Linked DNA regions of Homo sapiens. The protein of the gene in region 1 purifies or fractionates together with the protein of each later gene. This does not show direct contact. Each region holds a gene or a part of one and is shown in the gene's direction. Other genes may lie near its edges.

Region 1 (5,067 bases):
AACCTCCAATGAGTCAGCCATATGCTCTGTTGTGAGATCACCACTGCCAGTGTTAGTTAGTCACACGTAGCTTATGGGGGACAGTGCACCCCAGTGAGGCCACCTCGAGAATCGTCTGCAGCAGTGACTGATGTTCGGCGTAAGGAAGTGCACATTAAGATATCTACTCGGATAATGTATTTGTCACAGCAGATTCTTAACATGTTTTTATTTGTGATGAGACTTGAACCAGCCTAATATTTAGGTTTAAAGTCTCTAACAAAACTAAGATTCTTCCCTGCTGTACACACCCTACCCTGTTGAAAGTGCTCTGGCAAGTGAGACATCATGATGTACAGAAAGGACACTAGTTTGCCTACAAACTGTTTTGTCATTTTAGAGTTCATCATTATCATCATCATTATTACTACCATTATTTAATTTTCATCTTGGTTCATTTGTTTTTGATTATTTTTCCTTTTCTTTCAGTTGCTATACTGCTTCACTGTGACCTGCCACTACCCATGTTATTGATTAGTGGGATGCAAATCTAGTAGTATCTCTAAAAATTCCCTTGTGGAAAAGTTAATTTGTTGGAAGTTATAAGTAAATTATAAATTTCTAGTCTACCTGAACAAACATAAATAGAAAGAATGAATAGATTCGTATTCATATTTGTGCACCACATTTTCCTGTCTTATGGCAGTGTAGTAGTATCTTGGCTCACTGTGATAAAAATTACCAGGGACTTATTTCCATTTCCGCACACTGCCACAGCTCATGACAATTTGCATGCAGTTAGGACTCAAATATGAAATTTAACTTTTTCTCCAATTATAATTTTATGGCCATATTTTGTATATAGATATATTTTTTAATGAGATAACATGCTAGATACTACTAGTTTTATAAGGTTATTACCTTGAGGCAATTACTTTAAAATATACACTAACATTTTTAGGCCACTTGTCTATAATTTAACACTTTTTTATATACCATATCATATTTGGAGTGCTAAATTTTACAAATGGGAGAAACTAAAGTCCATAGAGTTTTTAACCTTTTAAGGTCACACACTGATTTGTGGCCAGCCTCCCAAATAAAGACCAAGTCCTTTAATTGACTAACCATCACTCTCATCTTTATTCATGTCTAGCCACTTTTGATAACCAAGGACATAAAAATATTTCATATAATCTCCACAATGCATGTATATATGCATATATATATCAATACCCTATTTAGTTACGTTTCTATATTTCATATGTAAACATATTTCATACAGTTAAATATGATACTGACATATTTATTGATGTATTAGGCATTTACATGTGCGTATCCATTAGATATATGTCTGTGTGTGTATAAATACTGCCATTACTGGCTTGATTTAGAATTAGTTTTATGGTGTCCTTTCACTTGAATTAAGAAATATTTTAAATTGCATTTTATCACTTTGTACAGATTAAGATTCTTGCCTTCTCCTTCCTTCCTTCTTTACCTCTTTCATCCTTTCCCTTTGGGAAAATTTGTTGAAAATGCAAATGTGGCCGGGCACAGTGGCTCATGCCTGTAATCCCAGCACTTTGGGAGGCTGAGGCGGGTGGATCACAAGGTCAGGAGATTGAGACCATCCTGGCTAACACGGTGAAACCCTGTCTCTACTAAAAATACAAAATTAGCCGGGCATGGTGGCGGGCGCCTGTAGTCCCAGCTACTCGGAAGGCTGAGGCAGGAGAATGGTGTGAACCTGGGAGACAGAGCTTGCAGTGAGCCAAGATGGCGACACTGCACTGGGCGACAGAGCAAGACTCCATCTCAAAAAAAAAAAAAAAGAAAAGAAAATGTAAATGTTGGCCGGGCGTGGTGGCTCATGCCTATAATCCCAGCACTTTGGGAGGCCGAGGCTGGCAGATCACTTGAGGTCAGGAGTTCGAGACCAGCCCGGCCAACATGGTGAAACTCCATTTCTAGTAGAAATACAAAAACTAACCAGCTGTGGTGGCACACACCTGTAATCCCAGCTACTCAGGAGGCTGGGGCTGGAGAATCACTTGAACCTGGGAGGCGGAGGCTGCAGTGAGCCACGATGGTGCCACTGCACTGCAGCCTCGGTGACAGAGCAAGATTCTGTCTAAAAACGAAAATTTAAATGTTGCCGTATTCTTGTGCTGATTCTTCTGTAAACCAAAAGTCCTTTTGAATGTCTGTCCCAATTATTTCCAGGTTCTAGTTGAATACTTCATTTGATTTAGCATATCTGGTACTTTTCTTAATGGAGAATTAAAACAGAAAACATTCTCAGGAAACAAATGCATTAAAGTCCCATCTATTTTAGGATACTAGTTACAATGTCTTAAATGAGTGAGTGTACTCATGACCCTTTGTGACTTTGCCCCTGAGTTTCATTTTGAATGGCAGTTCAACAACCCTTGCTAGCATTTGCAACTCGAAAGTAATTAACTGCTCTTTCAGTCTGGCTACATAAATGCCTTAGGATGTACCATAAAAGGCCCATTTCATGTCTCGGTTCAAGGAATCGCCTAATGATATGAATTGATGTTAAATCATTGTGAGTTAAGGCAGAGCTGTTTAAAGAAATGAAAAACCAGCACAAAGTTTCAGTTTATAAACAACAGGAACAATATTTTAGTAAATTTACATTATGTTTGTAGTCTCTGAAGGAAAATTCATTCACAGTTTTGTGTCTTATTTTGACTTAGTCGAGTGAGATTTCCCCAGCAATTGTAAAAAGTCAGTATGACTTATCCCACCTTGAATATAAAAAAGAACTAAGACAACCAACTCAACAAAGGGAACCAATGTTGCTGGTTTTTAGCTGGTCTAGGAGTTTACCCGGTATCAGCTCAGGTGCAAACCTCATGTGGTGCTAGCTTCTCTGAGGTCCTCTGCAGCAGGGAACATGGCTGTGATCGATTAGCTATGTCTGCCATGCAAGAGGATGCAAGAGGGTAGCAGAAATTTCAGCAAGCAAGCCAGCATTCCAGTAATAGGATATAGCGGATTTTATTTTTCCGTGCATTTGTATGAGCAAAATGAGGAGTTAAAAACAGAACATGCCAAAAAGGCACAAACCACCCATAGATACAGTCTTGAAAAAAATCACTAGATTTATGTTTTTCTGAGAGGGAGATTTATGCCGGTAGAAATACGTTGTTTTGTACAATGATCTCATTTATCATGTGTGGTATCACCCACAGTGGCATCGGCATGTGGAATACCTTCATTTGGTGCCTAGAGAGCCTTTCAACGGGCATCTAACTAATATACTGGGAGTACTATTTATGATAAGATTGACAATGATATAGGAAAGAGTCGGTCTCAGATTTTAAACAAAGAGAGGGACTTTCTTGGGTTGTAAAGTGTGTTTGCTAGTGATTTCTTAGTTTTATCAAGCTGTGCATGGTATGTTTTTTGCTTCAGAGCTTTCCTTTCTATTCACTGCTTTAGTAAGACTTACTACTGGAAGTTCCCTGAATGGCAGCAGTGGTGGACTTCATTATCCAGAATGCTCGATTCTCCTGTAGCAAAATGAATCCATTGTGATAGTTATTTTGGAAAATGAGTCATCCTGGAAATGTATTTTTGATGAGATAAACTGTAATTTCAGGCATGTTTTTAAAGTGGTGATACCTTTGGAATATAAATATAAGGAAACAATTTAATGATATAAGAACTAATACCTTTGATGATTTTGAAGACATTCTCAATAAGGAGATTAACAATGAATGCTTCCTAGAGCTTAAATACTACTACTTGAGAGAACTTTTACCAGTTAACTTTAGTGGAAAAAAAAAATCCTTTGATATCTGTGTAACTGACTCACTGTAATGAGTGGGCTTACTCATTCAAGATATTGTAATTAGTATCCTAAAACAGGCATCACTTTAATGCATTTTTGTCTTGAGAATATTTTCTGTATTCACCATTACAAAAAGTATCAGATATGCTAATTTGCATATGCTATGCACGGTGGTTGGTGTCCTAAAACAAATTAGGGTTATGCCTACTTGAATAAGCTTATGTGTTTAAAGATGGTTTATTTCACAACTTTGAATGCTATGAAAATCTTTTTCAACATACTTTTTCTTGTTAACCCAAACAAAATTTTTCTCATCAATTTATTCCTGAAATTTTATTATCTTCTACATTTTAATAATTGATGCATGTTTAGCTCTTTTAAGACTGAAGACAAAGCATCTGAAAGACAGCTTTCTGGTTTGTCTTTCAGAACCACCCGTTCCTATTGCCCCACCTCAGCTCGCCTCTGTAGGAGCCACCTACCTGTGGATACAGCTCAACGCCAACTCCATCAATGGGGATGGGCCCATTGTGGCCCGAGAGGTGGAGTACTGCACGGCCAGTGGGAGCTGGAATGACCGGCAGCCAGTCGATTCCACGAGCTATAAAATTGGACACCTTGACCCAGATACAGAATATGAGATTAGTGTGCTCCTGACCAGGCCAGGGGAGGGTGGCACTGGCTCTCCTGGTCCAGCTCTCAGGACAAGAACAAAGTGTGCTGGTGAGTATAAGGAACCCTGCAATTAATTGTCATTGTCTTTCCTGGTGTTGACTGGCAGCACTGGGGTTGATCAGATGCCTAGCACGCTTCCCCTAGCTCTATCAAAACCTGCATATGAACAGAAAATGCCCTTAGCCTGTGAATAGTCAGCTAACAGCTTGTGAACTTGGGGACCAGTAACCTCCAGGCTTGGTATTTCTCAGCCTGCCCCCACCCTTTTTCCTATTGTTAATTTACTTCTTACTCTGAGTACCACATTGTTCATATAGGAATTGTCTGTGAAGTTTACAGAAACTGTCTACTCTAATGATGTCCTCTAATAGGTCAGACTCTCTTACTTGGGCCCCTTTGTTTTATGTTCATAGTTAATGTGCCAGCAGCCTGGAGGGGCTCTGGAATAACAGATTCCATCTTAGAGATAGCCTTAAAGATGTGTTTTCATTGATGAGTGTTTAATGGAGGGTCTGCTGGCGAATGACTTGGGCCTGTTTGTATCATAAGCAAGAGTGATTTGTGTGCTGGGTGCAGTCTTTAGTTTCTTA
Region 2 (4,000 bases), on another chromosome or scaffold:
ACAAATGATCAAAATTACTGCCCTAGGAGCTCTCTACTATTACCTCATCTGTCCCCTTTATCCATCCTTGCTTTGCTTCTTATCAGAAGGAAAAATAAAATAAAATTATTTAGCTTACAAAGTAGCTCTGTTACAGCCAAACAGCGCTATCCACTGACAATCTCATGGCTCACTGTCTTCCATCATGTCATAAGCTCAGCTGTCTGAAGGTGTTGGTTTCTTCATCTCTACTGTTTCTGGTTTTTCCTCCCTCATTTTCTGCTTTCTGACCAGCAGCTGCAAAATGTCTTGGGGAAAAAGTAGACCAACCTGGATCTTGGGGAAATACAGATGAAGATTTTTCTGTTTGGCTTTTGCCTCATATTTATTTGGCACTTCAGACCTGATGAAGGCTTTTATGTATCTGTGCCTTATTTGAGCCTCGAAACTCTGATTTTATAATAGAAGGGTATTCATTCAACAAGTATGTACTGATTACCTGCTATATGCCAGACACTGTTCTAGGTGCTGGAGATACACAGGAAACAAAATAAGATTTAAAAAGAGGAAGAACCGGCAGCCCAACTCGCGAAACTCTCCTTTTAGCTGGGAGCATCTGCCAGTAAAGGGGCCGGGACAGATCTCGTAGCGCCTGGTAGGTGATTGGAGGAATTTTGGCTTTTACTTTGAGTGAGATGGGAGGCCAGCGGAATGCGTGGAGCAGAGGGTAGTCTCATTTTAGAGATTAGGAAAATAAGAGGCTACCCCACAGTAAGTGCACCAGTTGCGTTTAAAGAAAAAAAATGTATATTAACAGGAGGTAGCCACTGATTTGGGGCCACTAGTCCAGAGATTCGAAATGAAGCGGGAGGAGACACGTTAAGATTAATCTACAGGGAAACAAATTATTTACACCGAAATACAATTTAACACAAACATACGCAAAGAGATATGCCAAGGAGTACTCGGGGGCTCTGTTCAGGCACTTGTTAATGAAAACGAAGCGAATCTTGACGCCTTAAACCCTGTCTAGCCTACTTGATTCCGGGGGTGGGGCTGTGGGAATCGCTGCCCACCCGGAATCCCGCCTGCCCCGAGCATGGCCAAGCCCCAGCCCCGCCCCGCCGACGGCCTGCCGCCGGGGTTGGCCGCGGCGGTGGCGGAGGCCACGGTACCCGGAAGTGCGGCTGACGTGTCCCGGCAGCGCTCGGAATTGTGGGCGACTCGGCTAATGGCGTCGGCGAGTCTTAGGGGCCTGGGGAGCTGGCGCTGAAGCTTCTTGCCAGGTTGGCTGGTGACACCCGGTGTGGCTGGGCCCCGCGGCAGCGGAGGGACCTGCCCGCCTTGTGGGTTTCTCGGCCAGAGTCGGCGGAGCCTAGCGGGACGGTGCGACTGCGGGGGGCGCCTCCGAGAAAAGCCAGAGGTGTTGCGGGGAAGCTGCTGGGGGACGCTCGAGCAGGCTCCGGGTTCGCAGCCCAGGGCCCAAGAAGCGGGCTGCTGAAGGACCAGAGACACCGGGAGGGAGCTGCCTGTGGCCCTAAGGAGCTGACCGTGCCAGAGCTTGTTTGTACCTCTCGGAAATTGGCTGGGACCTTGGAGGATCATGTCCGGCACCAGCAGCCCCGAGGCGGTGAAGAAGCTGCTGGAGAATATGCAGAGCGACTTGCGCGCCTTGTCACTGGAGTGCAAGAAGAAATTCCCACCTGTCAAAGAGGTAAGCTTCAGGTGACGTCAGGAGAAGGCACTGTGAGCATGCCTGGTCCTGTTAGACTCAGTGCTTCACCCCAGTTTCCAGTCCTAATTTTCATTCAGGCCTCACCTTTCCAGATTTGTGAGTCGGTGGGTTGTTCCACAAGGGCTTTTTATAGTTTCCACTGGAGAGGGCTGAGGCACTTTGATTTTCTCCCCTCTCCTGTCCTCCCAGTTTAGGAGTGAAGTTCATGAAGTGAGCCTATTCAGTTAATCCAGCTAGGTGTACTGTGCACTAGCCTATTCTGGCCTTTTTCTTACTTGAAACTGGCCAAACCAAAATTGAAAAACTTGTTTGTTGCTCCCCGAAACGAGTATCCACCCATCTTGTTGAAACCTGTACTCCTCACGTTTATGGCATATCACTGAATTGGAAACAATTTTCCTTCTGGTATATATCATTCAGCTTAACTCTGTATCAATCCTTTGACGTGTTAATAAACTATCCAGAGCCACCTAATTTATGAAGAATATTGAAGATCCACATAATCATGTTAAACCTTGTTATGAGCAGTACTGTAGTGGGAAGTTGGGCTTGCAGTCAGAGCGAATACACCTGAATTTAGTTCCAGCAATAAATCTTAACCTCTTTGAGCTTCGGGTTTTTTTTTCCAGCTGTAAAATAGGGTTAAAGGATGGTTTTATATTATGTATGGGAAAGATGTCAGAGCAGAAGGGTATTATTAAAGAGATCCCAGTAAATAATACATGGAAATTTAATTCTCCAAATAGTTCTTGAGGTGAAATATTTAACATTTGGTTACTATTTGCTTTTTCTCTTAAAATGCCATTTTAATTCTCTAAAAAAAAAAAACAAACAAAAAAACCCACCAAAAACAGGCCCGGCTAATTTTGTATTTTTAGTAGAAACAGGGTTTCTCCATGTTGGTCAGGCGGGTCTCGAACTCCCGACTTCAGATGATCCCCCTGCCTCGGCCTCCCAAAGTGCTGGGATTACAGGCGTGAGCCACAGCGCCCGGCTGTTTTTATTTTTATTCCTATTTAATGTAGTTTGTTTTACCTGCAATTTCATTTACTCTTTGCCCTAAAAATTCACCGAGGGATTTCATATTTACATACTTATTTAAATATATCTTTATTATTATGAAGATTATGTAATTAGAACTTGACCAATAAATTTTGGATTTTAGGCTTGTAAGGAATATTGACTTTTCTGTAAGTGCATTGGTTTTATCAGTTTTCAACAAACTCCATCTTGTATTTCTTTAATAAAGTATTACCCAGTGATGGAAACCAGATGTGCCACTTTTGGAAAGATGGCTGTTACGATATGTTTTATTTCACATAGTCAATAGTCTGTTTTGATATTGATTTTCATTTTTTTTATATCCTCTGTTGAAAGTTATAACAAGTAAATCTAAAGAATTAGGCTGTTTTAGAGAATTTTAAAGAATTAAGTTGTTTTAATTATAAGAGAAATGCTCTCATTTAGAAAATATCAAACACTATTTTGTAATTTCAACAATAATTTGTAGAACTGACTTCGCAGTTCTAATAATTCATACAAAAACTGTGGTTCCTCTATAGGCTGTTGTGGTCTAGCTTGGGAATTTAATTGCCATTTATTACATTTTTTTGTTTTGTTTTTTGATTTTGGAAATGGGGTCTCTGTGGCCCAGGCTGGAGTGCAGTGGTGCGATCTGCAACCTCGAACTCCCTGGCTCAGGTGATTCTCCCACCTCAGCCCCCTGAGTTGCAGCGACTACAAGTGCATACCACCACGACAGGCTAATTTTTCGCCTTTTTTTTTTTTTTTTTTGTAGAGACGGGGTTTTGGCAGGCTGGTCTCCTGAACTGGGTTCAAGCGATCTGCCCACCTCTGGCTCCCAAAGTGCTGGGATTACAGGTGTGAACCACCATGCCCAGCCAGAAGCTGCTGGAGGATCCCTTGAGCCCAGGCGGTCAAGGCTGCAGTGAGTGGTGATTGTGCCACTGTACTCCAGCCTGGGAGACAGAAGGAGACCCTGTCTCAAAACAAACTAACAAAAAAGCTTATTGGTTTTTACTTGAACACTGGCTAGAGAGATATTTTGTAATTGCACCTAGTCTTTGAGATAATAGCAAAAGTAATTCTTGTGATTATCTCTGATGCATAATTTTGTATATGGTACGTGTTTATAAGAATTTGTTGAATGAAAGCTTTTTGATTTCTTACCCAATGACACTGGGCACTACTTTAGGAATTGAAAAATGATCTTGACTGTGTCATAGGTTTAAAACAAAGAGAGTCATTAGCCTAATTATGATGAAG
Region 3 (3,500 bases), on another chromosome or scaffold:
ATTTTTAAAAACAACTTTGTAATTTGGCAACACACATGCTTCTTTATTAAGGCATTAATTAGGGAGTTCTCGCAGTGGGTCTAAGCACTATCATAATGTTGAAGCAGTGGTGAGCATAAATTATGCTATTTTGAGAGATCTGCAACAGTGGTAATGTGATAGGAGGAAAGTATCTGTGATTAAATTGGTGACAGTCACAGGTTTTGCTAATACTAATGTGGTCTGTTGACAACATGCATAACTGGAAGGAAATGTCAAACGTCAGCTTGAGAACAAGAAAAGCTGTCGTTTTTTTCTTGGCTATCTCAGTTCTTGGGCTCCTTGCAGGGTCTTCCACTGACCTCAGGCCAAGAACCCCTGCCCTTCACAGAGTTTTGTGGAAGACTACACCCATGAACTAGAAATTGCTGTTCTGAGAAGCAAGGGCTGTGTGGTCAGATCAGGGTGAGAAAGGCTGTAACCTTGGCTCCTGGGCGAGACCCACAACATCTGCTGCTATTTGAAAGCCTTAGAGGAGGCTGACTGTGTAAAGAAGACGGATTCTGCTTTGCCCCAGAGGTTCCCAAGTTTTTTTTCTGACCACAGAACTTTTTTGTCTTGGAACCCATCTTAACCATCTCTCTTCTCGGGAATGAAAAGCCCAGTCTCTGTTGCGTTTGCCCAGGATTCAGGGTAGGCCACTCCTCCTGGGCACTGCGTTCTCCACATCCCTCTAACGCACAGGCCACAAAGCCAGACCACAGGCTCGTGTGACTTGGCTCCTGTCATGTTTCATAAAAATGAATTAATTCTCACGCCTGTAATCCCAGCACTTTGGGAGGCCAAGGTGAGTGGATCACCTGAGGTCAGGAGTTCGGGACCAGCCTGGCCAACATGGCGAAATTCCGTCTCTACTAAAAATACAAAATTAGCTGGGCGTGGTGGCGTATGCCTGTACTCCCAGCTACTCTGGAGGCTGAGGCAGGAGAATCACTTGAACCCAGGAGGCGGAGGTTGCAGTTAGCCGAGATTGCACCAGCCTGGGCAACAAGAGTGAAACTGCATCTCCAAAAAAAAAAAAAAGAATTGCCCATATATTTGAAAGTCAAGAGGCTGGGCATGGTAGTTGCCTGTACTCCCAGCATCATGGTGGGTGCCTGTACTCCCAGCACTTTGGGAGGCCAAGGCAGGAAGATCACTTGAGCCCAGGAGTTCAAAACCAGCCTGGGCAACATAGTGAGACCCAATTTCTACCAAAAAAAAAAAAAAAGAGAGAGAGAGAGAGCAAGAGAGACAGGCATGGTGGCATGTGCCTGTGGCCCCAACTACTTGGGTAGGCTGAGGTGGGAGGATCACTTGAGCCCGGGAGGTTGAGGCTGCAATGAGCTATGATCACACCACTGTACTCCAGCCTGGGCAACAGAGCAAGAACCTATCTTAAAAAACAAAAAGAAAAAGAAAAAGTCAAGAGATTTCATAGGAAGATAACCTGAATTTCTAGCTCTTCCTGCAAAACTGGAAGATCTGGCCACATGCAGCTGGAGCTGTAGATGGTCCAGGTGCCAATAGTTGGGCTGTTTGCCACAGTCCCCACCATACCTTATTGTGTTCCATCTTATTTTATTAACTGGTCTACAGAAGCTCCAGCACAGCACAGCCTGCGGTCACTCGTTTGTGGGTTTTTTTTTGTTTTTTTTTTTTTTTTTGAGTTTGGCTCTTGTCGCCCAGGCTGGAGTGTAATGGCACGATCCTGGCTCACTGAAACCTCTGCCTCCCAGGTTCAAGCGATTCTCCTGCCTCAGCCTCCAGAGTAGCTGGGATTACAGGCGCGCACCACCACACCTGGCTAATTTTTGTATTTTTAGTAGAGACGGTTTCATCATGTTGGCCAGGATGGTCTTGCACTCCTGACAGGTGATCCGCCCACCTCAGCCTCCTAAAGTGCTGGGATTACAGGTGTGAGCCACCTCGCCCAGCCTCAGTAACTATTGTTTTAAGGCTGTTGATAGAGAATGATTGCAACAGCTTGGTGGGAAGTGGGTAGGGTATACGGGGGGGATGAGGAGGGGTGAGTAGGAGGGAAATGGTGGGAAGGTAGGTGTTGGCAGTGCAGGCCTCCCTTGATGCAGGTGCCCACCTTGGGATGGGAAGAGGTGGACATCTGTGTGCCTGCCCTTCTCCCCTGCAGATGTTTATCATTGACAAGGTGGATGGGGACATCTGCCTCCTGAATGAGTTCTCCATCACCGGCTCCACTTACGCTCCAGAGGGAGAGGTGTAAGTCACCCAGGCATCTTCTCCCCAGCTCCTCACGCCCCTTCCCACACCCCCTTTCTCCCTGGGGCCCTCCATGTGGTTTTGCTCTCCTTTCACTCTCCTCTTCCTCCCCGACCTTGTTCTCTCTCCTGATATCCGAGTTGGCTCTCCCCACTGTCCTTCCTTACCCTCTGCTGCCTGCTCTTCCTGTGCCCTCTCTGCATCTCATTCCCTGTTCTTCTCCACTGTCTCTGTCCCTTCCTCCCCTGACCCTGCTGCCAGCTTGAAGAATGATAAGCCAGTCCGGCCAGGGCAGTATGACGGGCTGGTGGAGCTGGCCACCATCTGTGCCCTCTGCAATGACTCCTCCTTGGACTTCAACGAGGTAACCTCTCCTTCCCCTTCCAGTTGGCTCAGAGTCTGGGCCTCCTCCGAAGGCCAGGAGGAAAGGGTTGGAGGAAGGGGACCCAGTACACCCAGCCCTCTGCCAGGGTGCAAGGGAGGCAGTGGTTTGCTTCCTTCTTACGCTAGGTGGAAGGAGGGTATGACAGGTAGGAGCCTGGGGCACCGACTTCCTCTTCCTCCTCTGCCCATCTCAGGCCAAAGGTGTCTATGAGAAGGTCGGCGAGGCCACCGAGACAGCACTCACCACCCTGGTGGAGAAGATGAATGTGTTCAACACGGATGTGAGAAGCCTCTCGAAGGTGGAGAGAGCCAACGCCTGCAACTCGGTGAGCCTGCGGAGCCCCTGCCACAGGGCCGTCTCCACTCTATGCTGCATAGACTAGAGGAAGGCAGAGGCCCTGGTTGGGCAGAGCCTAGTGCCTGTGCTGGGACCCCACCCAGGCAGCAGACAGCCCCTGCAGCTTCTCCACAGGCTGATGTGGGTGGGACCCATTGTCCCTGGGGCTGCCTGGCGGCCATGCCCTTGATGAATCTATGATCACTTCTGCCCGCTGTGTCCTGATTTGAAGTGGACAAAGCTGGACACGGAAACCACAAGGGACCCATCCAGGAGCAGCCCCAACTTCATCTGTTATTCCTTTGTTTCTAGAAGCACACTTGTTTTCAGCAGATGATGAGTCCTGACTTAGGATTTGGGAAATGTGGCTACTGCACCTATAGGGAAAGCCTTTCCTTGCCCAGATGAACCCGGCCACTTCTAGGACTGTCACTCCCAGTTATTGCTATTGATACTTGCTGAACGTCTCCATTAAGCACTTCTCTCTGGGGAATTATATTCCCCACATTTCTCTCTTTCTCTC
Region 4 (3,500 bases), about 51 Mb from region 1:
GCAGTGAGTTAGTGACTGGGTAGTAAAAAGGTGGAGGCCTTCCAGTGTCAACTACTCCTTCAAAAACAGTTGTCAGTAAAAGTTAAGGGGATAGAAGGTTTTCTGGGGGATGAAAAAATGAAAATACTTGTTTATATAGCAAACAGTTTTATAAAGATTTCACATTTATTTCTTTTTCCAAACTGCTATTTTGACTAACTGTAATAGAAAGTCATTTGCCTTACAGCCATCAAATGAAAAGCCGAAATGCCCAGAACTACCACCATTTCCATCATGTTTGTCTACGGTCCACTTCATTATATTTGTTGTGGTGCAAACTGTATTATTCATTGGTTATATCATGTATAGGTAAGTCTCTTGATAAAATGTGACCCAATATTTTTCTGCATCTGTTTAATTAGAAATATTCAACTAAGTTATCTATGTTCATAATACAATTTTCACCACCTATAAAATTAAGTTTATTGTGATTTCTGTTCATTTCAGTTCACATAAAGTGCACGTGTAGAATATATGTTTATCTTAATGCGTTGTATACTTCAAAAGGCATTGATATTTTAATTTTAAATAGTCCTGTTTCTTTCCAAAGTTAAGCGTATAGAACTTCTTTAAGTGTTTGTTTCTTTTTTTCATTAGGTCTCAGCAAGAAGCAGCTGCCAAAAAATTCTTTTGACTACCATTTTCCTGTGTACTTCATCTATTTGTGTACAAAATGATGTCGTTTTGAGGGAATTTAAGTATTTAAATTGCTTCATAGTCTAAATTATTAATTTTCTTAATAAAATAACTGTTTAAACATTGATTTGCAGTTAAGAATAAACCTTAAAGCAAAGACAACCACATTTTAATTTGTTCACAGTATGTAAATCTGTCTAAATTTCAGTGAATTTCTGGTCAGTATGATGCAGCCTCTGAGCAGAATATTGACCAGTAAGAGGGTAAATAAAGTGGGGGCAACCCCTGGATATGAATGTTACCCCCTAAGTCTCCAATATTGCAGGTTTCCCTGTATAACGTAAACACACTTGCCCTCATGCCTCCCAGAATATGAGGTCTAATTAAGAAGTCCCATCAGGTTTATTTTGTAACCAAAGTCTTTTTTAGAGGTCAGACTTCCTAATCAAAGGCCTGGGCCTGCAGTCCTTTCATCTTAATGCAACTTCCTTTGAAATCAAAGAATATTTTGTCTGAGAGCTTTAAGGATCTGGTAATAGACTTCAAAATGTTAAGTGAAATTTTTTTTTCCTCTATTTATCAATGATATATTTCACTTTTAAAGGAAATTTTAGAGGAAAATTAATAGCTGCTTTTTGCCTAAAAAACCTTGTGGGTGGAAACATTCCTCTGAGAATGGCTTTTATAGGTATTTTGCCTGGTAATGTATTCATTCATGATTGCCCATATTCTTGAATGTCTTCATTCCAATGGGGTCAGGTCAATATTATGAAAATAATTTTTATATTTATATTTGTAACTTAAGGAATTTATTTCTCCCTTTACTACAGCATGTAAATTCAGCTCAAATTGCATGATCTGAGGATTTAAATTCACAAAACCTGCCACTACATTCTGGTTTACATTAGTTACTTCATGCTGGCTGGGGTTAGTGACCATTTGCATACTCTTTTAAATCAAGGAGGCTGTAGTAGAAGCAGTTTTAAGATTCTTGAAGGCAAAATTTGAAAAACAGTGAATACTTCTAATTGTTTCCTTTTAGTGCCAGAACTAAGGACATTGTGAAGCACTTGTTAGTAAACTTAACCTTGAAATGTCAGACTGGAAGGAGTTTTTATAGTCTTTGTGCATACTTCTAGGTATTACAGAAACAGTCTGTAAATGACATTTTAAGATGCAAATTTAATTCTGTTCACAGCTGATTTATACTGATTTTTGCTGCCTTCAAAATACTCTTTTACTTCTTTTAGCTAAAATGGTTGTCTTTCATTTGCCATAGAATTCCAAACAATACTATCTTATAAAATAGTACTGTTGAATTATTCCAAGCCTCCCTAGGTTTGCTCTCAAATGTCATTTACAGATTGGGCTAACGACCTAAAATCTATATATAAAGACTTTCTGAAGAACTCTGTATTATAGCAATACCAAACGAGTGCTGTGTGTGCAAACAGTCTGGCGTTGCTTTTTATGTTGATATTTATCCTAGAACACTGAAAGAGAATATGCCAGTGATAACTCACTTTACTTCAGTCATTTCAACACAGAAAATGCTTCTCTAGCATTTTTCTTTTGTAGTGTTAACATTTTGAAATTCATGTTTCAGAGGCTTCATCATCACAGAATTTACTCTTGCTCCATGAAAAAAAATTAAATACCTTCAGAGGAATATTTAAGTTGTAAACTATGAAACTTGAGAAATCCTCTTGAGATAAAAGGCTGCCAAATCCAGTATTATAAAGTCCATGGTCATATGTGCCTGTGCATTAAAGGAATACCAGATCTATGCAGTATACATTTTTCAGGCTGAAATTCAAGGGGAATCATTCTGATTATTCTTACTACAAATGGAGATGGCTATTATGAAACAGCATGAGCATGAGCCTTTTATCTTTTATACTTAGTGATATACTTTGCTTGAAAATCACTCAGCAAAGTAGTTCACATGATGTGTATCATATTTGAAGTGTGGTTTTTCTCAAAATCATTGACTTTAAGGAGCTCATTTCTGAACAAAAAGGTTTGCTCTGTGGAAAAATCAATCACTGCCAGGATTCTTTCATTTCTGTACTATTTTGTATAATTGAATTTGTTCACTTCTCTCACACCAGCAAGTGTTTTACAGGTGCCTTGGATTAAAACAAAATTGATTTTAAAATTTTTATGTAAGTCATTGTGTCTATGATGCCACTTTTAAAAGGAAAATGCAATTGCGTAATGGCTTATATCCTTATTTAATGTACCTATTTGTGTTCTAATAATTGTTTGAATGTTTTATTCAGCTTAAAACTTTACCATGAAGTCATAAACAGTAAACAATGTTTTGTTATGTATTAAGGGGATATCAGTGTTTCTCAAAGTATGATCCATGGACCATCTGGGTCATGGCGCCTGGTTTCAGACAACCTGAATCAAATCTTAGGGGTGGGGCTTTGGGATGTCATTGTTCAATAGGCACCTCAGGAGATTCTGAGCACACCAATGTTTGAGAACCACTAAAATGAGGAGTGGGAAAAAAAAAATAGGTGTTTTGTTAATTTAGAGCTGAGCTGAGAAGATAATATATTTTTATTGTCAATGACATTAACAGATATGCACTGATTCTTTTATACCTACAATTTACTTAATGTTCCTTTTATTAAAACGCGTGGTTCATGAGCAACTACAGACTGAATCCAGATTATTACCTGTTGCTTTCAGTATTTTCGTGATGGCTTTTAATCTTATGAAATCATCTTGAGATCATTCATGGTCAAGCCATGAAAACTCCCATCTTCAAGCCTGCCTGCTAAAGCTTCTTTGCCTTCCTGATTGTGATTATGGTA

Evidence for each region.
Region 2: the proteins of PTPRM (region 1) and MON2 purify together in Homo sapiens (affinity purification with mass spectrometry, with the first as the bait; one large-scale study listed by BioGRID). This does not show direct contact.
Region 3: the proteins of PTPRM (region 1) and ATP2A1 purify together in Homo sapiens (affinity purification with mass spectrometry, with the first as the bait; one large-scale study listed by BioGRID). This does not show direct contact.
Region 4: the proteins of PTPRM (region 1) and LMAN1 purify together in Homo sapiens (affinity purification with mass spectrometry, with the first as the bait; one large-scale study listed by BioGRID). This does not show direct contact.

What each region holds. Positions count from the first base shown.
Region 1 is NC_000018.10:7,950,890-7,955,956, forward strand, and holds part of PTPRM (receptor-type tyrosine-protein phosphatase mu isoform 1 precursor), read left to right. Parts: intron 1-4,231; coding exon 4,232-4,525; intron 4,526-5,067. UniProt on the Homo sapiens protein: Receptor protein-tyrosine phosphatase that mediates homotypic cell-cell interactions and plays a role in adipogenic differentiation via modulation of p120 catenin/CTNND1 phosphorylation.
Region 2 is NC_000012.12:62,465,626-62,469,625, forward strand, and holds the start of MON2 (protein MON2 homolog), read left to right. Parts: upstream 1-1,200; 5' UTR 1,201-1,582; coding exon 1,583-1,693; intron 1,694-4,000. UniProt on the Homo sapiens protein: Plays a role in regulating membrane trafficking of cargo proteins. Together with ATP9A and DOP1B, regulates SNX3 retromer-mediated endosomal sorting of WLS away from lysosomal degradation.
Region 3 is NC_000016.10:28,891,988-28,895,487, forward strand, and holds part of ATP2A1 (sarcoplasmic/endoplasmic reticulum calcium ATPase 1), read left to right. Parts: intron 1-2,167; coding exon 2,168-2,256; intron 2,257-2,517; coding exon 2,518-2,620; intron 2,621-2,834; coding exon 2,835-2,966; intron 2,967-3,500. UniProt on the Homo sapiens protein: Key regulator of striated muscle performance by acting as the major Ca(2+) ATPase responsible for the reuptake of cytosolic Ca(2+) into the sarcoplasmic reticulum.
Region 4 is NC_000018.10:59,328,266-59,331,765, reverse strand, and holds part of LMAN1 (protein ERGIC-53 precursor), read left to right. Parts: intron 1-226; coding exon 227-348; intron 349-636; coding exon 637-673; 3' UTR 674-3,500. UniProt on the Homo sapiens protein: Mannose-specific lectin. May recognize sugar residues of glycoproteins, glycolipids, or glycosylphosphatidyl inositol anchors and may be involved in the sorting or recycling of proteins, lipids, or both.